2 linked regions of the Homo sapiens genome follow. The protein of the gene in region 2 interacts with the protein of the main gene of each other region in a pairwise test. Each region holds a gene or a part of one and is shown on either strand. Other genes may lie near its edges.

Region 1 (10,843 bases), on a different chromosome or scaffold from region 2:
GTGGTGGGCAGGAATCCATAAAGTCAGACATCCTTCTTGGCTTGAGACTATCTGACATGAACTGCCCCATTTCCTGTGTGACTTTTGAACATTCTGACATTTGTGTGGGTAAAAATTATCCGTTCATATTATCTAAGCCAAACTATATTTTACCACATAAACACAAACTGTCTTTCCTGACCTCCTGGTCTCAAGCAATCCTCCCCTCCTCAGCCTCCCCAAGTAACTGGGACCACAGGCACATGCCACCAAGCCCAGCCAATTTTTTGAAGAGATAGAGCCTCTTTATGTTGCCCAGGCTGGTCTTGAACCCTTAGGCTCAAGCAGTACTCCTGCTTTGGCCTCCCAAAGTGCTGGGATTACAGGCATGAGCCACCGTGCCCAGCCTCTACATGGTTTTCACATACAGTACAAATATCTTGTAAATTGAGGGACAACTGTACAGTTTCACATAGAACATTCCCAAGAATTGTTCACCATTTCAGAAAATCTCATCGGGAATGGTACAGTGCTTTCCTGGGGTGCCTGATATGTAACACACCTGTGTACCTGCATTTCTAAGTAGAGACTTAAACACAACTATCTCACTAGGGGAGTCATAGCAATATTTACATACTGAAATACATGTAATTTTATTATTAATATAAACTACTTTTACATTTTCTCCTTTATATTCCAGTTAGGGTATTAATTATGCTGGCTTTTAAAAATTGCACATAGCTGGACTTGGTGGCTCATGCTTGTAATCCCGGCACTTTGGGAGGCTGAAGTGGGAGGACTGCTTGAGCTCAGGCGCTTGAGACCAGCCTGGGGAACATAGTGAGACCCCGTCTCTACAAAATATAAAAAATTAGCCAGGCATGGTGGTGCGCCTGCGGTCTCAGCTACTTGGGAGGCAGAAGTGGGTGGATCCCTTGAGCCCAGGAGGTCCAGGCTGCAGTGAGCCGGGATGACACCACTGCACTCCACCTGGGCGACAGAGTCAGACTCTCTCAAAAATGTATACATACAAAGACATTATACATATATTCCATTTCAAGGTAACGGGGGTGTAAAATATAAAACAGAAGCTTCAGATCTTATTGGATCAAAAGTGGTTCACAATGCTTTTCTCTATCACTGCCACATGCTGAGTTATTCATTCATTAGTTCAGTCATTCATCAAATACTGATTGAGCAAAGATGACAAAACAGATCTTGCCCCTACCCTCATGGAGAGTGTGATCTTATGAAGCGACAGACAGAAATTAATGATCATGCAAATATGTAGTCATAGCAACTGTGATGAAGGATAAAAAGTATAAGGTAATGGAAGTATTCAACCTAATCTTAGAGGTAAGGAAAGGCTTCCTTAAGGAAATGACTTAAAGCTGATACTCAAGGGATAAACGAGTTGATGGGGGTCTCTCTGAACCTATTCTGGTTCAATTATTTAAAAAAATAGTTAACCAGAAGGCAGTACGGAGAGGAAAAAGTGTAAAGGCTCTCTCAGTAGCAGAAGAGAATGAAAAAGGGAGAAAGTTTGGAACAGAGGAGTGAGGGAAAGTAAGGCTTAAGACGAGGCAGGAGAAAGGAGCAGGAGTCTTGGCCAAAATAAAGATTTGGGTTTTGTTCCCTAAGCCAGGAAATGACATGATTAGATTTGCTTTTAAGGATCCTTCCAAACTGCTAAAGACATGTAGATCAAGTATTCATTGGCTGGGCGCGGTAGCCCACGCCTGTAATCCCACCACTTTGGGAGGCTGAGGCGGGAAGATCCCTTGAGGCCAATAGTTCTAGACCAGCCTGGGCAACACAGTGAGATCCCATCTCTCTCCATTTATTTATTTTAAAAAGAGACTCAGGCCGAGCGCGGTGGCTCACGCCAGTAATCCCAGCACTTTGGGAGGCTCACGAGGTGAGGAGTTCGAGACCAGCCTGACCAACATGGTGAAACTGCAGTCTCTACTAAAAATACCAAAATTAGCCAGTCGTGGTGGCGCGCGCCTGTAATCTCAGCTACGCAGGAGGCCGAGGCAGGAAAATCGGTTGAACCCGGGAGGCGGAGGTTGCAGTGAGCCAAGATCGCGCCACTGCACTCCAGCCTGGGCGACAGCCCAAGACTCCGTCTCAAATAAACATATAAAAAGAAAGTCAAGGTTATTCATTGCCTCCCTTGGAGACTGTACTCCCCCCCACCATGTCAATCAACAAATATCTGAACACCTATTTTTTTTTTTTTTTTTTTTTTTTTTGAGACGGAGTCTCGCTCTGTCGCCCAGGCCGGACTGCGGACTGCAGTGGCGCAATCTCGGCTCACTGCAAGCTCCGCTTCCCGGGTTCACGCCATTCTCCTGCCTCAGCCTCCCGAGTAGCTGGGACTACAGGCGCCCGCCACCGCGCCCGGCTAATTTTTTGTATTTTTAGTAGAGACGGGGTTTCACCTTGTTAGCCAGGATGGTCTCGATCTCCTGACCTCATGATCCACCCGCCTCGGCCTCCCAAAGTGCTGGGATTACAGGCGTGAGCCACCGCGCCCGGCCTCTGAACACCTATTACATACGGGGATACAGCTAAGAACTTTTCACAGAGACCCCCGCCCCTAACAAAACTTTACCTAAAAGGGTTGGGAGCATGTCCTACTCTAGTTTCATTCCCCGTTGGATCCGGCACACAACGCTAGGCGGTCATGTGTTCACTAAGCACCCCTGTGCCAGGCTCAAAAACATGGCCCAGGCGCAGACACTCAGATCAGCACCCACCCAGACCTGCAGGCGCTGTCTGCACACGCCTGACCGAGTCCACGTGCAAATGCACACGCACGAGCATTTGCAGGAGACCCCGGAAACACGCACACGTCCCAGGGGGGCCCACACTCCCGGAGCCGCCTTCGGTCCATGCCTCGCCCGGCCTGACTCTCCGTTCTCGCCCTCCCCGGTCCCTGGTCCCCCATCCACACTGCTCACTCGCGGGACTCACTTTCAGGTGTCTCCACGCCATGCTCCTTCCGTCATTAAGCCCGCCCCTGTCTCCCTTCCATTGGAGGAGATGGTGGCGGCCCCTCTTGTCTCCGCCCCTTAGCCGCCAACCCACCAGTCGCCGGGCAGAAGGGTTGAGAGGACGCCTCCGCGCAGCGGGGAAGGCCCGGCACCACCCCCAGGTTCTGGTTGGGTGCACGTGCGCAGTAGCGGCGGCCACGCCTCTTCCGCCCGCCCTCTCCCAGCCTGCCCGCTTGATCGCCGGCTGTTGGCGGAGATGAGATGCCGCTGCACGGTGTTTGTCCGTACTACCGCAGCCTCGAATCCAAGAGTCCGCGAGCATCAAAACACTGTGTTTCACACCAGAAATATTTGTACAGTTTTTATCACTTTAAAAAATAAATTTTACTGCTGTGTTGATATAAAGATGAATATGTTAATATATAAACTTTTTCAACTTAAAAGTTGATTTTTCTTAAGGTTTTTTAAGGAAATTAAAACATTTTCTTGAGGCCGGGCATGGTGGCTCACGCCTGTAGTCCCAGCACTTTGGGAGGCTGAGGCAGGCAGATCACTTGAGGTCAGGAGTTCGAGACCTGGTCAACACCCAAAACCCCGTGTCTACTAAAAAATAAAATAAAATACAAAAATTAGCCGGGCGTAGTGGCAGGCGCCTGTAATCCCAGGTACTCGGGAGGCTGAGGCAGGAGAATCGCTTGAACCCAGAAGGTGGAGGTTGCAGTGAGCCGAGATAGCACCACTGCACTCCAGCCTGGGCGACAAAGCAAGACTCTGTCTCAAAAACAAACAAAGAAAAATAACCAAAAAAAAAAAATTTCTTGAGATCCTAAAAGTGTCAGAGGCCCTTCCCTGGCCCTGCGCCTGTTGTGCCTCCTGGAGAAAGTGGCCCTGGTTATACCTTGGCATTGTGGTGCAACAGATGTGGAGGTATTTTTTTAAATACTGTTTCTAATCAAGACCCTGAGTGTGCAGGCCCGTTGGAGTGTGGTTTACTGCGGTGATTTTTTTTTTTTTTTTTTTTTTTTTTTGACAGAGTCTTGCTCTGTTGCCCAGGCTGCAGTGCAGTGGCGCGATCTCGGCTCACTACAAGCTCCGCCTCCCGGGTTCACGCCATTCTCCTGCGTCAGCCTCCCGAGTAGCTGGGACTACAGGCGCCCGCAACCATGCCCGGCTCATTGTTTTGTATTTTAGAGACGGGGTTTCACCGTGTTAGCCAGGATGGTACTGCGGTGATTTATGACGACCTAATGTGTCACTTTGTAGTCCTCTGAAGCAATCGTGCCCTCACGAAGAATTTTGAAATGTCTTACCTAATGATGTCCTGGCCGTTGGAGAATAGCCTCTGTAGACTTAGGTGTCAACAGCATTAATCAGATACTTATTGTTTGGAGGCTCTACACCCATCCGTGTCATTTTTGTCCAGTTGCAGTGTTCCCGCCATCAGCTGAAATAGCTGGGTTATTGTCGTAGCAGAAATTAGAGCAAAAGAAAGGTGTATGAAATATCTTGAGTCAAGCCATTTTTGAGCTTCATCAGTTGTATGAAGCTATCAAATTAGAACAAATTCACAGACCCAGCTGAGACTTAGAGACAGATTCTACTGCAATAATTTACATGCTAGGTGTTTCAGTCTACATGCAATAGAAATCATTGAAAACATTTATCAAGGTAAAAGTTATGCTTATCAACCTGTCTTCCCTTTACACTTTAATGGAATAAGTTAATTCAGCACACCTTAGTCAACATAAATCATTGCTCATCTGGGACAAAAAACTACTTACATGTTTATCCTCAGTTCTGAGCACTCTCTCACCAATTTTTTGGTCGTTTAAATTAAAACTTTTATTGATAGAGTGCTTGTGTCTTAGATAAAGCATGTATTGAAAGAATATATACAAGGACTTTACCCTTTATGAAAAGGATTGAAATGAAATTACAGCATTGTGTAAGATACCTGACTTGACTTTCAGAGATTTCATCAACATCAGGTTTCATTTAAAAATGCTTGAAACGGTCCCAGTCAGTCCAGAGGCTGCGGCTGTGGAGGTACCACCTGTGGAGAAACTGCAAAGATGCTGTCTGTGTGTGTCTCCGCGGCCGTAGCCCGTGACCTCACTCGGTGGGCAGGACTGGTCTCCAGAAATGCTTTGGGTTCATCTTTCATTGCTGCAAGGAACCTCCATGCCTCTAACACTCATCTTCAGAAGACTGGGACTGCTGAGATGTCCTCTATTCTTAAAGAGCATGTTCTTGGAGCTGATACCTCTGCTGACCTTGAAGAAACTGGGCATGTCTTAAGTATTGGTGATGGTATTGTCCATGTACATGGGCTGAGGAATGTTCCAAGCAGAAGAAATGGTAGAGTTTTCTTCAGGCTTAAAGGATATGTCCTTGAACTTCGAAACTGACAATGTTGGCATTGTAGTGTTTGAAAATAATAAAGTAAGGAAGGAGGTATAGTGAAGAGGACAGGAACCATTGTGGACGTTCCAGTCGGTGAGGAGCTGTTGGGTCGTGTAGTTGATGCCCTTGGTAATGCTATTGATGGAAAGGGTCCAATGGGTTCCAAGACCCATAAGTGAGTCGGTCTGAAAGCCCCCAGAATCATTCCTCGAACTTCAGTGTGGGAACCAATGCCGACTGGCATTAAGGCTGTGGATAGCTTGGTGCCAATTGGTCGTGGTCAGCATGAGCTCATTATTGGTGACCGAAGGACTGGGAAAACCTCAATTGCTATTGACACAATCATTAACCAGAAACATTTCAATGATAGATCTGAAGAAAAGAAGAAGCTGTACTGTATCTATGTTGCTATTGGTCGAAAGAGATCCACTGTTGCTCAGTTGGTGAAGAGACTTACAGATGCAGATGCCGTGAAGTACACCACTGTGGTGTCAGCTATGGCCTCAGATGCTGCCCTACTTCAGTACCTGGCTCCTTACTCTGACTGTTCCATGGGAGAGTATTTTAGAGACGATGGCAAATATACTTTGATCATCTATGACGACTTATCCAAACAGGCTGTCGCTTACTGTCAGATGTCTCTGTTGCTCCACCGACCCCCCTGGTCGTAAGGCCTGTCCTGGTGATGTGTTTTACCTATACTCCCGGTTGCTGGAGAGAGCAGCCAAAATGAATGATGCTTTTGGTGGTGGCTCCTTGACTGCTTTGCTAGTCATAGAAACACAGGCCGATGATGTGTCTGCTTACATTCCAACAAATGTCATTTCCATCACTGACAGACAGATCTTGGAAACAGAATTGTTCTACAAAGATATCCGCTCTGCCATTAACATTGGGTCTGTCTGTGTCTTGTGTTGGATCTGCTGCCCAAACCAGGACTATGAAGCAGGCGGCAGGTACCATGAAGCTGGAATTGGCTCAGGATCGTGAGGTTGCTGCTTTTGCCCAGTTTGGTTCTGACCTCAATGCTCCCACTCAACAACTATTGAGTCGCGGTGTGCGTCTAACTGAGTTGCTGAAGCAAGGACAGTATCCTCCCATGGTTACTGAACAACAAGTGGCTGTTATCTGTGCGGGTGTAAGGGGGTATCTTGATAAACTGGAGCCCAGCAAGATTACAAAGTTTGAGAATGCTTTCTTGTCTCATGTTGTCAGCCAGCGCTAAGCCCTGTTGGGCACTATCAGGGCTGATGGAAAGATCTCAGAAGACTCAGATGCAAAGCTGATGGAGTTGTAACAAATTTCTTGGCTGGATTTGAAGCTTAAACTCCTATGGATTCACATCAAATATCAGTTCAGTTTTGTCACTGTTTGTTCTAGTAAATTAGTTTCATTTGTAAAAGAGTTACTCTCATATTCCTTATGTACAAAAATCACATAAAAAAGTTTCCATAATGCATTAAAAAAAAAAAAAAGAGGAGAGTTCCGGGGACCAGGCAACCGCCACAGTTGAACGCTGCTGCTCCACGGTGGAGTCACCGCACCCCCGCCAGCATCATGGTGTTCTACTTCACCAGCAGCAGCGTTAATTCATCTGCCTGCGCTATTTACATGGGAAAGGATAAATATGAAATAGAGACAGGGTTTCACCATTTTGGCCAGAATGGTCTCAATCTCCTGACCTCGTGATCCGCCCACCTCAGCCTCCCAAAGTGCTGGGATTACAGGCATGAGCCACCGCGCCCGGCCCTTGAGTTTTATATCTCTCCTACTAACCCATAAATCATCATGAAGATCTGATGAAGCATGGCTGGCCTGAATATATCTGGTTTCGTGCGGACAGACTCTCTTTGGCTCATGTATACCTTCAATTGCATAAGGGAGAGAATATAGAGGACATTCCAAAGGAAGTGCTGACAGACTGCGCCCACCTTGTGAAGGCCAATAGCACTCAAGGCTGCAAGAACAACGTTAATGTGGTAAATACTCCACGGTCTAACCTGAAGAAAACAGCTGACGTGGATGTGAGGCAGATAGGCTTTCACAGGCAGAAGGATGTAAAAATTGTGACAATGGAGAAGAAAGTAAATGAGATCCTGAACCGATTAGAAAAAACCAAAGTGGAGCCGGGCACGATGGCTCATGTCTGTAATCCCAGCACTTTGGGAGGCTGAGGAGGGCGGATCACGAGGTCAGGAGATCGAGACCATCCTGGCTAACACGGTGAAACCCCGTCTCTACTAAAAATACAAAAAATTAGCCGGGCGTGGTGGCAGGCGCCTGTAGTCCCAGCTACTCGGGAGGCTGAGGCAGGAGAATGGCGTGAACCCGGGAGGCGGAGCTTGCAGTGAGCTGAGATTGCGCCACTGAACTCGAGCCTGGGCGACAAAGCAACAGTCTGTCTCAAAAAAAAAATAATAATAATCTTCATTTCTGTTAAGAAGAACATGTTGGTGGGTAATTATGCGAATGTTTCCCTGTCCCTGATTTCCCAATTAGAAAAAACAGCATATGAGTTTTGGAAAAGAGAGTTCCAGAAGATTGTTGGCTTCAGTATTCACGTTCCATCGTGTCGTCTGGGTCTGTTAGTGTAGTGACCCTCAGCGCAGCCTGTCCTGGCTTTTACGTCCTTGCTTCCTCTGAGCAGGGGCCTCCATCTTAGTATCATCATATTTAAAGAAATCAATGGTGTTCATCAAGGTGGGGCCTGTGGCAGTTGTTGCCTGGGCACCAAGTCACCCAAGTCACCTACACAACAACTTCTGGGCTCAGGAGTAATTTCTCAGCACTGAGGGTAAAATAGGAAGGAACGCTCTGTTGATCATTTGGGAGATGTAGGTTACCTGATTGGTGCCTTGGAATGCAGCATGAAGCAGAAGTCCATATTGCAATTATGATTTTAGAAGGAACTAAGCATTTCACCAGCCAGCCAAGTAATTATTTTCTTTACCTTGAAATCATATTTGAGTTGTAACCCCAGAGTTCAATTTCTCATTGTAAATTCAGTAACTTACTATGTAACATTACTTCTCACTTGAACCTCTCACTATCTGTTTTGATTCCGAGCAGAAGATGTCTTTTGATTGCAGTATGTAAGGTAACCCCTGTAGAAGGAGACCAAACAAGGAGAAAGAGAACAAAGCCTGCAGGACCAGAGGCATACAGATAGACATTTTACTCACACCCACAGCAGCAAGAATGACCTCCTGCAGCAGATACTCCACCTGTAATAGCACTTTGGAACTGTGGGCAAAACCAAAAGGCTAGTGTTTCCATTTATGTATGGGGTTGAACTGGAAAATTCCCTGAGGCATAATTCATTGGCCAAATTTTGAGAGGGTATAGAAGATGACTTTAGAGATGAGTGGTTTTGTGTATGTGTCTAATGATATTCAGCCTGACGTTCTGCAATTTTAAAAATTATAATAAAGTATCATTTTTTAATCTGGAAAAAAAGCTTGAAACATATGTGTGGATGTATCATGCATTTATTTATGTATGTATATGAAGATGTTTAGAAGTTGAGGCTCTGTGAACTTTGAAAACAAAAGCATCCCACATCCAGATGATTCCATTGTCACAAACTCTTGAAAGGGTGGACTACTCTGCTCAGAAACCTTCCAAATAAACTGCAAGCCCTTTATTCTGGCATTTGAAACTCTCCCATTTTCTGGTTACAGTTCCTACTACTGTTCCACCAAGTACCCCCTACATGTACACACACACACACACACACACACACACACACTCAAGTATTTCTTTCTCTTTATCAATACCTTCCACTTTCCCACCTCTGTGTATTTATTCACATCGACTCCTCTGTCGAGATGTCCATTTCATCTGTCTAAATATTGCCATCTTAATATGTTCATTCCAAAAGCTGGAAGTAATTTCTTCCTTATCTGAACCTTCCCAGCAGCACCTAAGCTGTCCCTCTGGGCTGGCACTTTTCACTGCCTATATTAATTACAATTATTATGCCTTTTCTTCCCTAATTGGACTTTATGAAAGGGAGGATCATACTGTATTTATCTTTCATTTGATTACTGCAGTGTTTTTGGTGTTTTTCTTTTGGGTTTTTTTTTATTGTTTTTTTTTTTTTTTGAGACAGGGTCTTGCTCTGTCCCCCAGGCTGGAGTGCAGTGGTGCAATCTCAGTTTACTGCAACCTCTGCCAACCTACTGCCAAGTGATCCTACTGCCTCAGCCTCCCGAGTAGCTGGGATTACAGGCACGCGCCACCATGCACGGCTAGTTTTTGTATTTTTAGTAGAGACGGGGTTTCATCATATTGGCCAGGCTGGTCTTGAGCTCCTGACCTCAAGTGATCCGCCCACCTCGGCCTCCCAAAGCACTGGGATTACAGGCGTGAGCCACTACGCCTGGCTGATTACTGCAGTGTTTTTCAAACAGGATGTATTCTTGCAGTCTGTGTTTTAGAGAATTTCATAATTTTGGTGACCACTTCTGTACTGATTTTTAGAGTAACATAAGCATCATTTGGACTATCTGGATAACCATCTTAACCCTGAAACCTACCAAGCAGTTCAGTGCCCACATTTGTTTGAGTTTATGATCACTTTTTGGCACCAAGAAAGAACGAGCTGTAATACACGTGATGGATATGCAACAGGTGGAGACCAAATGACCTGCTGTGTGAACAAAGGTTTTTTTTGTGTGTGTATGTGTGTGTGTGAGTCAAATAAAGAAACGTGGTATCAGAACTGAACCCTCCCCATATCATAAAATAGCATGCATGCCAGATTCAAAGGAACCTGTGTAGTCGTAGGCCAGAGCCCTGTTTATCTGCCATTTAGCTTGGCAAAACTTGGATCTCATTGATTTTCAGTTTTGTTTGTATTTAATTTGTATTCATTCTTCCATTTAATATTGTTTTGTTTTTATGACCGTGTAAGAGTTTTAAGATAAAGTTCATGGACCAGGGACGGTGGCTCACACCTGCAGTTTGGGAGGCCAAGGTGAGAGGATCGTTTGAGTCCAGGAGTTCAAGGCTGCACTGAGCTATGATCATGCTACTGCCCTCCAGCCTGGGTGGCATAGTGAGACCCCATAAAAAAAAAATAGCATTTATGCCTAGTTCTGTTTGCATGTACTTAAGAGACAGAATACAGTAATTTAAATCAGTCCTGGGGGTAGCAGAGATGTAGGATGAACAAGTCAAGAGATTTAGTGTACAAACTGAAGATTACAGGTAATAAAACCATACAGTAGACAGGATTCATGCTAGATGAGATTTTAGCTGCTCTTGCTACAAAAACAAAAAAAAAAGTGGGTAACTAATGTGAGATGATGGATATGTTTGTTTTACTATAGTAACCTTCTTAATATCTATATGTATCCCATGACATCATGCTGTGTGCCTTAAATATACACAATAACATTTATTTTTTTAAAAAGTCAGGCCAGGTGCAGTAGCTCACGTCTGTAATCCCAGCACTTTGG
Region 2 (16,569 bases):
TAACAGGATGAACGAAAAAGAAAAAAAAATCATAACTAAGCAATAGTAAATTTTCAAAAAAAAAAAAAAACAACAAAAGTTCTGGCATGGGAAACTGGATAGAATTGTGGCACCATTTATTTATTTATTTTCAACTTTTATTTTAGATTCAGGGGGTGCATGTGCAGATTTGTTACCTTGGTATACTGCATGATGCTGAGGTTTCAGGTATAAATGATCTTGTCACCCAGGTATGTGAGCACAGTACCCAATAGGAAGTTTTTCAACGCTTGCTCCCCTCCCTCCCTCTCCTCTCTTGTCATCTCCAGTGTCTACTGTTCCCATCTTTATGTCATAAACACCCAGTGTTTAGCTCCTACTTATAAGTGAGAACATGTGGTATTTCGTTTTCTGTTCCTGTTTTAATTCACTTAAGATAATGGCCTCCAGCTGCATCCCTGTTGCTGCAAAGGACATAATGTCATTCGTTTTATGGCTGTGTAGTACTCCATGGTGTACACGCAGTACCATTTATTGAGATAAGAGACCTGTTTGGGTGGAAAAGATTATAAGTATGGACATGTTAAAATGGTGACCATGAGACATCCAACTGGGTGCAGCTGGAATAGCAGCTAGTTGTGTGGGTCTGGATCCTCAAGGAAAAGATGGGAGTGAAGATACAAATCTGGGGGCTGTTTGTGCCTACATGATGATCCACAACAGGGATTGTCTCAGAGCTATGTTTTTCTCTATCAAAGCAGAGAGATGAAGTAACATAAAAAGAAAAGGCTGAGGCCAATGTCCTAAAAAAATTCAGAGTTTAAAGGATGAGTAGAAGAGGAAATGCCAGAAAAAGAGATTAAGGAGGAGCAGCCAGTGATGTCAGAGAAAAACACCAAGAGAACATGGCATCAGAGAAGCCAAGGGAAGAGGATTTTTCAAGAAAGCAGAAGTGATTCACTTTGTTGAGAGGTTAAGTGAAATAGGACTAAATATGTCCATTAAATGTGGTAAAAAGAAAGTCAATAATGGTTGGTTACATTCATTTCAGCAGGGATGGGAGTGAAATCAAACTAGGGTGGGCTGAGGAGGAACTGTGAGAAAATGTGGATGGTGGACATCACTAACAAAGAGAGGGGAGATAGATGTAATGAAGGAGGGAGAGTTTTGTGGAACGAATGAGGAGTTTTTGTTTTGTTTTTAGTGGCTGGCCCTTAACTGATTTAAATGTTAACTGGTAGCATGTAGTAGCAAGAGAAAAGTTGAAGATCTAGAAAAAGAAAGAATAAACAGAAATATTCCTAAGAAGCCACAATGGGATTGCTATTTTTTAAAAATTTTTATTTTCTGTCATATTAATGGATCCTTCAGGAGGTGTGTTAGTGTTTTTTAAAAGCCTCAGATTTCTGGCCGGGCATGGTGGCTCACACCTGTGATCCCAGCACTTTGGGAGGCCAAGGTGGACAGATCACTTGAGGCCAGGAGTTCAAGACCAGCCTGGCCAGCATGGTGAAACTTCATCTCTACTAACAATACAAAAATTAGCTGGGCATAGTGACACACACCTGTAGTCCCAGCTACTTGGGAAGCTGAGGCAGGAGAATCGCTTGAACTCGGGAGGCAGAGGTTGTAGTGAGTCGAGATGGCCCACTGCTCTCCAGCCTGGGCAACAGAACAAGACTCTGTCTCAAAAAAACAAAACAAAACAAAACAAAACAAAAAAACAAGCCTCAGATTTCTCATAAGAATTTGAACAATCAACCCATGGATAACCCAGATCAAAAATACTATACTAACTTCAGACATTGGCTGAATGCTATAATGATTAAAAAAAAAAAAAAGAACATATGAAGTTTGCCAATCAAAAAAATAGTTTATGTCCTAAGTTCTGAGCCAACCAACATAATTGTTTGGCCTACACTGGCTAATATGGTAGCCATTAGCCATGTGTGGTCATTCAAATTTAAATTAAAGATTTAGTTTCACCAGGTGCAGTGGTTCATGCCTAGAATCCCAGCACTTTGTGGGTCTGATGGGGGAGGATTGCTTGAGGCCAGGAGTGAGACCATCCTGGGCAACATAGTGAGAATGCATCTCTAAAAAATAAAAATAATAAAAAAACTGGCTGAGTGTGGTAGCACATGCCTCTAGTCCCAGCTACTCCAAAAGCCGAAGTGGGAGGATCACTTGAGCCCAGGAGTTCAAGACTGCAGTGAGCTATGATTGTGCCACTGCACTCTAGCCCAGATGGCAGAGTAAGACCCTAGCTTAGAAAAAAAAAAAAAAAATCTGTTTCTTAGTTGCAGTAGTCACATTTCAAGTGCTCAATAGCCACATGAGAATAGTGTCTATTGTAGAACAGTTTCATCATCATAGAAAGTTCTATGGTACAGTGCTGGCTAGAATTTAAGCTCCATTGAGGCAAAAGAAAAATATACCTTATATTTTGAATTCCTTCTCCAGTATCTACTTAATATGTATTGAGTGCTTTTATGTACCAGGTAATGCTCTTGTTATATTTTAGATAGACAGACTGATAGATTGATTTAATGCTTACAGCAACCCTATGTGACAGCTTTTCAATGTGCCCATTTTACAGATGAGAAAATGCAGTTACAGCTACATAGTGTTTCACACAGCTAGAATGTAGCAGAGCTGAGATTCCAATCCAGGTCACATGCTCCAGAACCTGTATTCACAAGAACTAAGCCACAGTCAAAACTTCACACTCACTGTTAAATTTTACTTTTGCTGCTAGTAGTATACTATGGGATCTCAAAAAACATAAAATTATATCCTACAGCATGTTGGCTGATAAAGGTCAAAACTTAGCTTCACCTTGGGTTGCCCGGCCCGCATGGAGGAAAGGGCTGTGTGCATTTTCTCATTGCTTTTACTGCACAGAGATGGTATCTAGAGAAGGTGGTTATGCTAAAGTTCTACCGAAAAGTTCCACCACAGATTTCCTTCTTTAGCTCCTCCCATTAATTCAATCAAATTTAGAAAAGTTTTCATTTTACTCATAAAACTTTCTGAGTTTCTCCCTTTCATCCTAGAATAACAGAACATACAGGAGATTTGCAACATACCTTCCTGTTCTGACCATCACTAAGTTACATGTTTTCTTGATTTTCAAATCTCTTGAGTTAAACAATATACTTCTAAATTAATGTGCTACATGAGGCCCAGAAAAATACCCCTACTGGTTCAGTGTTAAGGTATTTATGATCAAAACTGCACATCTGCTTTCTCACTATCAAGGTGTCACTTTTACTTCTTCACCTGCCTCAGTCACTTTATGAACAAACTAGACACAATAAAATCTAGCCAGACAATGCAGAGCCAAGACATTTACAAAAATAATTAGCTGCAGGTTTCAGTTTTATGTTTCTTGGATCCCTGAGTAGAGTTGCCAGGTAAAAATATACAACACTCAATTAAAGTTGAATTTCAGATAACCAGTATATAATTTTTAACATAAGAATGCTCCATACATACTTTAAAAAAACTGTTGTTTATCTGAAATTCAAATAACTGGGCATCCTTTATTTTTATAACATATAGGTTTATTTCCTAAATAAAACATAGGTACTTTGTTAAATCTGGCAAGACTACCCCTAAGAAGCTCAAGGAACTTCATTGCTATGAGCTCATTCAATTTCCTCTGACACTGGTGCAGCAATGAAAGAACAGGAAGATCATGATGTCTGTTTTATAGATGGGATTTCATGATTAACTCAATTTTATTTGACACTTAAGCTAGGGCAAAAAAAATTAAAAAACAGCCCCAAATCATTTTACTCGATCTTCCAATATCCTTTCAAAAATTAAATACAGTAACTTCTTGCAGTATGGCAAGCAGTTGAGTTACAGGCAGGTATCTTATCTATAAGCAGGCAAGAAATGCAAATATTTAAATATTTTAAATCTTTAAAGATATAGTTGTTTCTGTAAAATTATAATTAAAAAATTCTGGTCATGAAATGTTGGTTTATCTTTGTCCTTCAACTGGGCCATGAGAAATTCTGGGAATAGTGTGAGTCGTTCTCCTGTGCCGGCCATTTTTAATCATATGCAGGTCTGAGGGAGGACAGAAGTTATAGGTCACCAACTGCTATGATCTGAATGTTTGCATCCCCTCAACAGTCATATGCTGAAATTCTAACTCCCAAAGTGATGGTAGTAAGAGGTGGGCCCTTTGCAAGATGATGAGGTCATGAGGATGGAACCCTCATGAATGGGATTAGTGCCCTTATGAGTTCCAAGAGAGATGCCTTTTCACTTCCAACATGTGAGGTTAAAGTGAGAGATGTCACCTAGGAACCAGGTAGCAGGCCCTCACCAAACACCAAATCTGCCAGTGCCTTGATCTTGGATTTCCCAGCCTCCAGAACTGTGAGAAATAAAATTCTGTTTTTATAAGTCACCCAGTCTACGTCATTTTGTTATAGTGGCCTGAATACACTAAGACACCAACCTACAAGAAACACTAGCTACACCTAATAGAAAAAAAGGGGATGCAATGAGAATAAACAGGAGTTAATGGAATACCGTGTCTGCAACAGCTCCCAGAGGAGTTGCCTTTCCTCTGCACCCTCCTCCACCCAAGAGAATGAGCCTCTTGCTCCTCGGCCTGGGGCATTTTCGAACTAGTCATTCACTCACTCATTCCACAAATATTTAGTGACTACCTACCAAGTACCAGACCATGTTTTCAGTGCTTGGGATACACCAGCAAACAGAGTAGATGAAATCCACAATCTCATGGAGTTTACATTATAGCCCAGAATTCTGGTTGTTTTTTGTTTGTTTGTTTGAGACGGACTCTTGTTCTTTTGCCCAGGCTGGAGTGCAATGGCGCAATCTTGACTCACTGCAACCTCTGCCTCCCAGGTTCATGCAATCCTCCTGCCTCGGCCTCCCGAGTAGCTGGGATTACAGGTATGCACCACCACACCCAGCTAATTTTTGTACTTTTAGTAGAGACGGGGTTTCACCATGTTGGCCAGGTTGGTCTCGAACTCCTGACCTCAGCTGGGATTACAGGTGTGAGCCACCATGCCCAGCCAATAGTTCAGAATTCTTATTTGCACTTCCTACTAAGCATTTTTGAAACACTTTTCCATGATTTTTTAAAATATTCTCACACTATTCATCTTCACTATTTTCCTTTCTTCTTATTTTGTACAGTTGACTGTGTGGAAGAATGGAACTAGGATTTTCACTTGTATCTGTTAATTTTCTCACAATTACCAAAGTGTTATTATATTTGGGGGACATTAAGACCTAAATTAAATCTAAGTTAAAACCTAAAATTTTAAATTAAAGCCCAAATTCCTAAAGATGAATGCATTGAAGCTTTCTATATGGTATTCAAGGAAGAAATGGAAGAAAGAGAGAAGAGGAGAGGGGAGGGAACACAACTGAACTGGAGGAGAGGAGAAAAAAAAAAGAGTTGTGTATGACTTACCGATTCTGTAAATAAGAACTTTGCTGCCAGTGGGATCCCTGGATCTCAGGACTCCATGGTAGCCAGCCTTTAGGAGGCCAATAATACTTCTAGGGTGTAGATCTGCACTTATTTCTGGACATTCTGCTCTCCACTTATAATAGTTTTTTAGTAACTGAAAAATAAAATTAAAATTGTCTACAAATGGCATACATGGTAATGATTTTGTAAAAATGGAAGAAAAGCTTTGGCATTGTGTATAAACTTTGCCATCCATTATGTCAAGAGTTTAATCTAGGGTATCTTTTCAGCTGTGAAAACTGAAAGTTCTTTTATCAAGGATCTGAGGTGACAGGGGTTAATCACAAATTCAGAGCTGAGCAACTTTCATTCACCACCCATGGTAGATATCCTCCAAAGACAGCCACCAATTCCTCCCCTCCTGATACCCATGCACCATTCTTCCCATTAAGAGATGGCATCTATTTGCTTCACTCCCCTTGAATCTAGGCTGGCCTTCCACCTTGCTTTGATCTAATATCAACTGGCAGAAGTGATACTGTGTGGGCCAAGCTTTAAGAAGCCTGGTACCTTCTGAATGTACTATTTGGGATCCAGACACTATGTGAGATTACTGAATGATAGCAATTCATGTGGAGAGAGGCATGGAGGTTGAGAGGACATCCTGGATAGTGTGACCTCAGCCAAGTTCCCATCTAATGCCATGTGGAACAGAGATGAACCACTCCCACTGAGCCCTGCCCAAACTGGTGATATCAAAAACAAATAAATCATTGTGTTTTCAGCCACTAATTCTTGGAGTGACTTGTTGCTCAGCAATAGAAAGCTGAAACACCACTTTTAGTATTTTTTGAAATAAGGAAGTATAGAAATCAATCAAATGAGTTAGAAGAGCCCAGGAGCAGTATACTTGGATACTGGATCTTGTCAAAATATGGTCTGAAGAAATCCCATTTTCTTTCTTTCCAAAAGAACCACCGGAAATAGCTAATCATATACGCAAACATACAAACACTACCAGCATATTGTGGAAAATACTAAAGCAAATTATGTATTTAAAAATTATTATATTTATATTTTAATTTTATTCTCATGATTTTTGGCACTCTCAATTTTTCACAAGTTACAATACATTTGTTTTGAGTTTAAAGAGACTTATTAATGTGAGACTGCAGTGCAGAGAAAATGACAGATTTTATATTTGAGAGTAATTGGAATAAACAAGGTAACTATAACCACAAAAATCACAATGATCTGGAGGAGAAACTACAAACGACAAAAACTAGAGAGGGAAATGCTGAGCCTTGGGAAATGTTAATGGCTGGGAATGGCTGGAGGAAGACAGAAACTGAGTGGACCTGAAGAGAACCAGCACTGGTACACGAGAGGGAGGACAGTGCCATCTGCATTGCTCTGCTCCCCCTCACCCCCATCTCTGATTTATCTCCCTCTCTTTCTCTCTCTGTCTGTCTCCCTCTATTTCATTTCTGTATTTAATAAACCTTTCTTAACTTTGAAAAAAGAGAGAATGTTGCTAAGAGTTAAATGCAAGAGAGGAGTAAGAAAGAAAAAAGTCAATTTGCCAACAAAGAAATAATTGGTGACCTAAATAGCAGTTTCCAAAAGCATGAGAACAACAGGCACATTGTAGGTCCTAATATCTTCATTCTACTCTACACGGTGCATTTCTCTTCCTCCTCCAGTCTTAGGGGGTACCAGAATAACTGTTAACAGTATTTTACAATGCTTTTTACTTTTCTGATAGTTTCCTCAGACATAAAAATCTTTTTCATTCCAATTCAAGTAAAATGCTGGAAGCTGCACATTAGTAACTATATAGAAATAATGTGTTTTTTTTTCCTGTGGAATGATAAAAGTTGTGGCTTCATTAGAAGGGATCATTTAGGTTTAATACTGGCAGGGGCCTCAGCTTATTCATCTCTGCAGAGTGCTGCACACCCAGGAGATAACAACACGTGTTGAATGAAAGAATAAATTAAGTCATGAGTAAACCAACTGGAACCACACACTTGAAAAACTGACTTCTGTAAAGAGGCACAAATCACTATCTCGCACAATTTTTGCAAACTGAAAGATCTAAACCTGGAACTTTGGTCTTTACTTATCCACTGATACATAAATTCACAGTATAGCTGTCATAAATAAATTATGTAAATAAACTGCTACTGAGCAATTCTCAAACAAACCACCCTATGTCCACAACAACAACAAAGAAGTGGCTAAAAATAAATATTCATCATTGGAAGGTGTCTGTTTTGCAAACATTAGAAGTAAATAAACATTTAAAATGTTATGGGTTAACTATGTTTTGTAACAGAGTAGGTTTCTTCTTACATGTTTCATGTACTTTGAAACAAAATAAGAACCACCATATTTGGAGCACTTTTATAGGGTCTAATGCCATCTTTTGAATTCCTCCTCACCATCACCCTGAGAAGTAGCTACTGTTGTGGCATTATAAGAATAAGAAAAGTAAAGCTCCAGCCAGGCACAGTGGCTCATGCCTGTAATCCCAGCACTTTGGGAGGCCAAAACGGATGGATCACGAGGTCAAGAGATCAAGACCATCCTGGCCAATATGGTGAAACCCCATCTCTAAAAATACAAAAATTAGCTGGGTGTGGTGGTGCGTGCTCAGGAGGCTGAGGCAGGAGAATCGCTTGAACCTGGGAGGCGAAGGTTGCAGTGAGCCGAGATTGCGCCACTGCACTCCAGCCTGGGCGACAGAGCCAGACTCCGTCTCAAAAAAAAAAAAAAAAAAAAAAAGTAAAGTAAAGCTATGAGAAATTACACATTTGTTCAAAGGCAATAACTATCAGGAGCAGAGTGGAAACTGAAATGGACACATGATATGAAAAATTTTATAAAAGAAGCTGCATTTAGAGAGAAATTAGCAGGGAGAATCTATGGAATTTGGAAAGCTTTGGGAAAACCATAAAGATAATTATAGCATAAAAAGCTTATCACATGGAACAAAAGTATAAGGAACTAGGCTATCACTTGATATAAGGAATTCATGAGACTATGTAGAACAGGCAGAGAAGTGAATGGTTAGCTGTTTTATATGTTTGTTGTTTTAAATATAAGAGGCAAGTGCAGTGTATTTGACAGCGCAGGCTCTCTCCTGAGCCCAACCCAAATTCAAATCCCTGCTTCAACACTTAATGGCTACATAATTTCAGACAAGTTACTTACTCTTTATATCTGTTTCTTCTAAAATGAGAAAATAATAAAAGATAATCCATGAAAACCCTACTTACCAAAGTATGTTGCATTCTATAAGCACATTAGCTATTAGGATTATATAATAAAACCTTATTAATTCATCATAACTTCAAATACAAACACTAGAATAATGAGAAATTTCATTGTGACTGAGGCACTTATCAAGCTTTCTTTATACAAAAACTATAGGGCTTCTATATTATGAATGAAGAAGTTAGAGTTGAATTAAGTGCTATTGCAGAGGAAAATGAAAAAAAGTTTTGCACTCTTACCCTTTCCTTTTCCTTTCCAGTTGGCAGAAAAGCAAGACAAAGAGTTCACAGACAGAAACTTGATTTCTATGCGGTGGATTTAGACACAGTCCTGCTAGCCAATTCCTCAAGGGCATGGTACAATGAAAACAATTCCTTATTTAAGGAATACAGAAAAAAATATATTATGTCCCAGAGGCTGATGGTCAATTTTATTTTTCTATTTAAACATTACTTTTTTTAAAGCAGCTAAAATGAAATTAGTAAATGAAACATGTTTTATTGTTAGTTATCTCTATACATATATATGTTTAATGCCTCATTTAAGCTTCATTCTTCATAGGACCTGAGATTGTGTTTTCATATTCAGTAGTTACTAAGTACATATTAGTTTATTACTCATGATATTGGGATACTTATATAGCCATCTAAAAAATGAAAATAAATAAAGTTGGATTCCTATTTTACTCCTAACATAAAAACAAATCTCAATAGATCAAAGACCCCAACATAAAAAAGAGAAGACACAAATAACTAGAAAAAATTTTGGACAAGAGAAGAGATTATAAAACCCAGAGGCAATCAAAGACTAATAAAATCAATTCATTTGATTACATTAAAATTTAAAATTCTGCACAGAAAAAAATAGTATAAGTAATGTAACAGATAAAAATCAAGGACAAAGGCCTAAAATATATAAAAAGGCCTAAAATACATAAAAATATTTTATAAATCAGTAAAACATAAAAATGGGATCCATTCCAAGATGGCCGAATAGGAACAGCTCCAGTCTGCAACTCCCAGTGTGATCGATGCAGAAGATGGGTGATTTCTGCGTTTCCAACTGAGGTACCTGGTTCATCTCACTGGGACTGGTTGGACAGTGGGTGCAGCCCATGGAGGGTGGGCTGAAGCAAGGCGGGGCATTGCCTCACCCAGGAAGTGCAAAGGGTTGGGGGATTTCCCTTTCCTAGCCAAGGGAAGCCATGACGGATGTACCGGGAAAAACAGGACACTTCCACCCAAATACTGCACTTTTCCCAAGGTCTTAGCAACTGGCACACAAGGAGATTCTCTCCTGTGCATGGCTTGGCGGGTCCAACACCCATGGAGCCTTGCTCACTGCTAGCGTGGCAGTCTGAGATCTAACTTCAAGGCGGCAGCCTGGCTGGGGGAGGGGCATCTGCCATTGCTGAGGCTTGAGTAGGTAAACAAAGTGGGCCAAAAGCTCGAACTGGGTGGAGCCCACTGCAGCACAGCAAGGCCTACAGCCTCCATAGACTCCACCTCTGTGGGCAGGGCATAGCTGAACAAAAGGCAGCAGACAGCTTCTGCAGACTTAAACGTCCCTGTCTGACAGTTCTGAAGAGCACAGTGGTTCTCCCAGCATGGCATTTCTGCTCTGAGAATGGACAGACTGCCTCCTCAAGTGGGTCCTTGACCCCCATATAGCCTAACTGGGAGACACCTCCCAGTAGGGGCCGACAGACACCTCATATAGGCAGGTGACACTCTGGGACGAAGCTTCCAGAGGAAGGATCAGGCAGCAATATTTGCCGTTCTGCAATATTCACTGTTCTGCAGCCTTCGCTGGTGACACCCAGGCAAACAGGGTCTGGAATGGACCTCCAGCAAACTCCAACAGACCTGCAGCTGAGAGACCTGACTGTTAGAAGGAAAACTAACAAACAGACAGGAATAGCGCCAACATCAACAAAAAGAACATCCACACCAAAACCCCATGTGTAGGTCATGAACGTCAAAGACCAAAGGTGGATAAAACCACAAAGATGGGGAGAAACCAGAGCAGAAAAGCTGAAAATTCTAAAAACCAGAGCGCCTCTTCTCCTCCAAAGGATCACAGCTCCTCACCAGCAATAGAACAAAGCTGGATGGAGAATGACTTTGATGAGTTGACAGAAGTAGGCTTCACAAGGTCAGTAATAACAAACTTGTCTGAGCTAAAGGAGCATGTTCAAACCCAACACAAGGAAGCTAAAATCCTTGAAAAAAGGTTAAACGAATGGCAAACTAGAATAAACAGTGTAGAGAAGACCTTAAATGACCGGATGGAACTGAAAAGCCTGGCACAAGAACTTTGTGATGCACGCACAAGCTTCAGTAGCTGATTCCATCAAGTGGAAAGAAGGGTATCAGTGATTAAAGATCAAATTAATAAAATAAAGCGAGAAGACAAGGTTAGAGAAAAAAGAGTAAAAAGAAATGAACAAAGCCTCCAAGAAATATGGGCCTATGTGAAAAGACCAAATCTACTTTTGATAGGTGTACCTGAAAGTGATGGGGAGAGTGGAACCAGTTGGAAAACACTCTTCAGGATATTATCCAGGAGAACTTCCCCAACCTAGCAAGTCAGGCCAACAATCAAATTCAGGAAATACAGAGAACACCACAAAGATACTCCTCGAGAAGAGCAACCCCAAGACACATAATTGTCAGATTCACCAAGGTTGAAATGAAGGAAGAAATGTTAAGGGCAGCCAGAGAGAAAAGTCGGGTTACCCACAAAGGGAAGCCCATCAGACTAACAGCAGATCTCTCAGTAGAAACCCTACAAACCAGAAGAGAGTAGGGGGCCAACATTCAACATTCTTAAAGAAAAGAATTTTCAACACAGAATTTCATATCCAGCCAAACTAAGCTTCATAAGTGAAGGAGAAATAAAATTCTTTACAGACAAGCTGAGAGATTTTGTCACCACCAGGCCTGCCTTACAAGAGCTCCTGAAAGAAGCATTAAACATGGAAAGGAACAACTGGTACCAGCCACTGCAAAAACATGCCAAATTGTAAAGACCATCAATGCTATGAAGCAACTGCATCAATTAATGGGCAAAATAACCAGCTAACATCATAATGACTGGATCAAATTCACACATAACAATATTAACCTTAAATGTAAATGGGCTAAATGTCCCAATTAAAAGATACAGAGTGGCAAATTGAATAAAGAGTCAAGACCCATCAGATGTCTATAGCACATCTCACATGCAGAGACACATATAGGCTCAAAATAAAGGAATGGAGGAATATCTACCAAGCAAATGGAAAGCAAAAAAAAAGCAGGGGTTGCAATCCTAGTCTCTGATAAAACAGACTTTAAACCAACAAAGATCAAAAGAGACAAAGAAGGTCATTATATAATGGTAAAGGGATCAATTCAACAAGAAGAGCTAACTATCCTAAATACACCCAATACAGGAGCACCCAGATTCTTAAAGCAAGTCCTTAGAGACCTACAAAGAGACTTAGACTCCCACACAATAATAATGGGAGACTTTAACACCCCACTGTCAATATTAGACAGATCAATGAGACAGAAGGTTAACGAGGATATCCAGGACTTGAACTCAGCTCTGCACCAAGCAGACCTAACAGACATCTACAGCGCTCTCCACCCCAAATCAACAGAATATACATTCTTCTCAGCACCACATCACACTCATTCTAAAATTGACCACATAATTGGAAGTAAAGCACTCCTTAGCAAATGTAAAAGAAAAGAAATCACAACAAACTGTCTCTCAGACCACAGCGCAATCAAATTAGAACTCAGGATTAAGAAACTCACTCAAAACCGCACAACTACATGGAAACTGAACCACCTGCTCCTGAATGACTACTGGGTAAATAATGAAATGAAGGCAGAAATAAAGATGTTCTTTGAAACCAATGAGAACAAAGACACAACATACCAGAATCTCTGGGACACATTTAAAGTAGTGTGTAGAGGGAAATTTATAGCACTAAATGCCCACAAGAGAAAGCAGGAAGGATCTCAAATCGACACCCTAACACCACAATTAAAAGAAATAGAGAAGCAAGAGCAAACAAATTCAAAAGCTAGCAGAAGATAAGAAACAACTAAGATCACAGCAGAACTGAAAGAGATAGAGATACAAAAAACCCTTTGAAAAATCAATGAATCTAGAAGCTGGTTTTTTGAAACGATCAACAAAATTGATAGACTGCTAGCAAGACTAATAAAGAAGGCCGGGCATGGTGGCTCACGCCTGTAATCCCAGCACTTTGGGAGGCCAAGGCAGGCGGATCACGACGTCGGGAGATCAAGACCATCCTAGCTAACACGGTGAAACCCCGTCTCTACTAAAAATACAGAAAAATTAGCTGGGCGTGGTGGCGGGCGTCTGTAGTCCCAGCTACTGGGAGGCTGAGGTGGGAGAATGGCGTGAACCCAGGAGGCAGAGCTTGCAGTGAGCCGAATCATGCCACTGCACTCCAGCCTGGGTGACAGAGCGAGACTCCGTATCAAAAAAAAAAAAAAAATAAATAATAATAATAATAAAGAAGAAAAGAGAGAAGAATCAAGTAATCAAATAGACACAAAAAAATGATAAAGGGGATATCACCACCGATCCCACAAAATACAAACTGCCATCAGAGAATACTATAAACACCTCTATGCAAATAAACTGGAAAATCTAGAAGAAATGGATAAATTCCTGGACACATACACCCTCCCAAGACTAAACCAGGAAGAAGTTGAATCTCTGAATAGACCAATAACAGGCTCTGAAATTGAGGCAATAATTAATAGCCTACCAACCAAAAAAAAAAAACAGACCGATTAACAGACAAATTCTAACAGAGGTACAAAAAGGAGCTGGTACCATTCCTTCTGAAACTATTCCAATCAATAGAAAAAGAGGGGATCCTCACAAACTCATTTTATGAGGCCAGCATCATCCTGATATCAAAGCCTGGCAGAGACACAACAAAAAAAGAGAATTTTAGATGAATATCCCTGATGAACATCGATGCAAAAATCCTCAATAAAATACTGGCAAACCGAATCCAGCAGCACATCAAAAAGCTTATCCACCAAGATCAAGTTGGCTTCATCCCTGGAATGCAAGCCTGGTTCAACATACACAAATCAATAAATGTAATCCATCAGATAAACAGAATCAATGACAAAAACCACATGATTATCTCAATAGATGCAGAAAAGGCCTTTGACAAAATTCAACAGCCCTTCATGCTAAAGACTGTCAAAAAACTAGATATTTATGGAACGTATCTCAAAATAATAAGAGGTATTTATGACAGACCCACAGTCAGTATCATACTGAATGGGCCAAAACTGGAAGCATTCCCTTTGAAAACCGGCACAGGACAAGGATGCCCTCTCTCACCATTCCCATTCAACATAGTGTTGGAAATCCTGGCCACGGCAATCAGGCAAGAGAAAGAAATAAAGGGTATTCAATTAGGAAATGGGAAGTCAAATTGTCCCTGTTTGCAGAAGACATGACTGTAAATTTAGAAAACCCCATCGTCTCAACCCAAAATCTCCTTAAGCTGATAAGCAACTTCAGCAAAGTCTCAGGATACAAAATCAATGTGCAAAAATCGCAAGCATTCCTATACACCAATAACGGACAAACAGAGAACTAAATCATGAGTGAACTCCCATTCACAATTGCTACAAACAGAATAAAATACCTAGGAATCCAACTTACAAGGAATGTGAAGGACCTCTTCAAGGAGAACTACAAACCACTGCTCAACAAAATAAAAGAGGACACAAACAAATGGAAGAACATTCCATGCTCATGGGTAGGAAGAATCAATATCATGAAAATGGCCATACTGCCCAAGGTAATTTATAGATTCAATGCCATCCCCATCAAGCTACCAATGACTTTCTTCACAGAACTGGAAAAAACTACTTTAAAGTTCATATTGAACCAAAAAAGAGCCCACATTGCCAAGACAATCCTAAGCAGAAAGAACAAAGCTGGAGGCATCATGCTACCTGACTTCAAACTACGCTACAAGGCTACAGTAACCAAAACAGCATGGTACTGGTACCAAAAGAGATATATAGACCAATGGAACAGAACAGAGGCCTCAGAAATAACACCACACATCTACAACCATCTCATCTTTGACAAATCTGACAAAAACAAAAAATGGGGAAAGGATTCCCTATTTAATAAATGGCGCTGGGAAAACTGGCTAGCCATATGTAGAAAGCTGAAACTGGATCCCTTCCTTACATCTTATACAAAAATTAATTCAAGATGGATTAAAGACTTAAATGTTAGACCTAAAACCATAAAAACCCTAGAAGAAAACCTATGCAATACCATTCAGGCCATAGGTGTGGGCAAGGACTTCATGACTAAAACACCAAAAGCAATGGCAACAAAAGCCAAAACTGAGAAACGGGATCTAATTAAACTAAAGAGCTTCTGCATGGCAAAAGAAACTAGCATCAGAATGAAGAGGCAACCTACAGAATGGGAGAAAATTTTTGCAATCTACCCATCTGACAAAGGGCTAATATCCAGAATGTGCAAGGAACTTAAACAAATTTACAAGAAAAACAACCCCATCAAAAAGTGGGTGAAGGATATGAACAGACACTTCTCAAAAGAAGACATTTATGCAGCCAACGGATACATGTAAAAATGCTCATCATCACTGGTCATCAGAGAAATGCAAATCAAAACCACAATGAGATACTATCTCACGCCAGTTAGAATGGTGATCATTGAAAAGTCAGGAAACGACAGGTGCTGGAGAAGATGTGGAGAAATAAGAATGCTTTTACACTGTTAGTGGGAGTGTAAATTAGTTCAACCACTGTGGAAGACAGTGTGGTGATTCCTCAAGGATCTAGAACTAGAAATACCATTTGACCCAGCAATCCCATTACTGGGTATATACCCAAAGGATTATAAATCATGCTGCTATAAAGACACATGCACACGTATGTTTACTGCGGCACTATTCACAATAGCAAAGACTTGGAACCAACCCAAATGTCCATCAATGATAGACTGGATTAAGAAAATGTGGCACATATACACCATGTAATACTATGCAGCCATAAAGAAGGATGAGTTCATGTCCTTTGCAGGGACGTGGACGAAGCTGGAAACCATCATTCTCAGCAACTATCACAAAGACAGAAAACCAAACACTGCATGTTCTCACTCAGAGGTGGGAATTGAACAATGAGAACACTTGGACACACAGTGGGGAACATCGCACACTGGGGCCTGTTGGAGGGTGGTGAGCTGGGGGAGGGATAGCATTAGGAGAAATACCTAATGTAAATGACGAGTTGATGGGTGCAGCAAACCAACATGGCACATGTATATCTATGTATCAAACCTGCACATTGTGCACATGTACCCTAAAACTTAAAGTATAATAAAAAAAAAAAAGAACAAAAGCAAAAACAGGCCATTTTCAGTTAACTGGAAAGAAATTTTGAAATTTTACATGTATATAAAAGATTATTAATCACACTTAAATAAATGCATATTATAATAACAATGAAAAAGTATATCTCTTTTAGCAGGTTTATACACAAATTGTGTTTGATAATACAGTGTGGGTTATGGAGGAAAAGGCAAAATCATGTAATATCAGAGTGATGAGTTATAGAGTTTTTTTTCTTTTTTTTCTTTTTTTTTTTTGAGACAGGGCCTCACTCTGTTGTCCAGGCTGTGGTGCAGTAGCACAATCTCGGCTCTCTGCAACCTCCACCTCCTGGGCTCAAGCGATTCTCCCACTTCAGCCTCCCAAGTAGCTGGGATTACATGCACGTGCCACCACACCTGGCTAATTT

Evidence for each region.
Region 1: the proteins of TTPA (region 2) and DHODH interact in binary tests that used the Homo sapiens proteins (3 or more experiments, as listed by UniProt).

What each region holds. Positions count from the first base shown.
Region 1 is NC_000016.10:72,000,901-72,011,743, reverse strand, and holds the start of DHODH (dihydroorotate dehydrogenase (quinone), mitochondrial), read right to left. Parts: upstream 3,001-10,843; 5' UTR 2,980-3,000; coding exon 2,959-2,979; exon of another isoform or gene 2,835-2,958; intron 1-2,834. UniProt on the Homo sapiens protein: Catalyzes the conversion of dihydroorotate to orotate with quinone as electron acceptor. Required for UMP biosynthesis via de novo pathway.
Region 2 is NC_000008.11:63,067,486-63,084,054, forward strand, and holds part of TTPA (alpha-tocopherol transfer protein), read right to left. Parts: intron 9,103-16,569; exon of another isoform or gene 8,968-9,102; intron 5,604-8,967; coding exon 5,450-5,603; intron 1,662-5,449; coding exon of another isoform or gene 1,545-1,661; intron 1-1,544.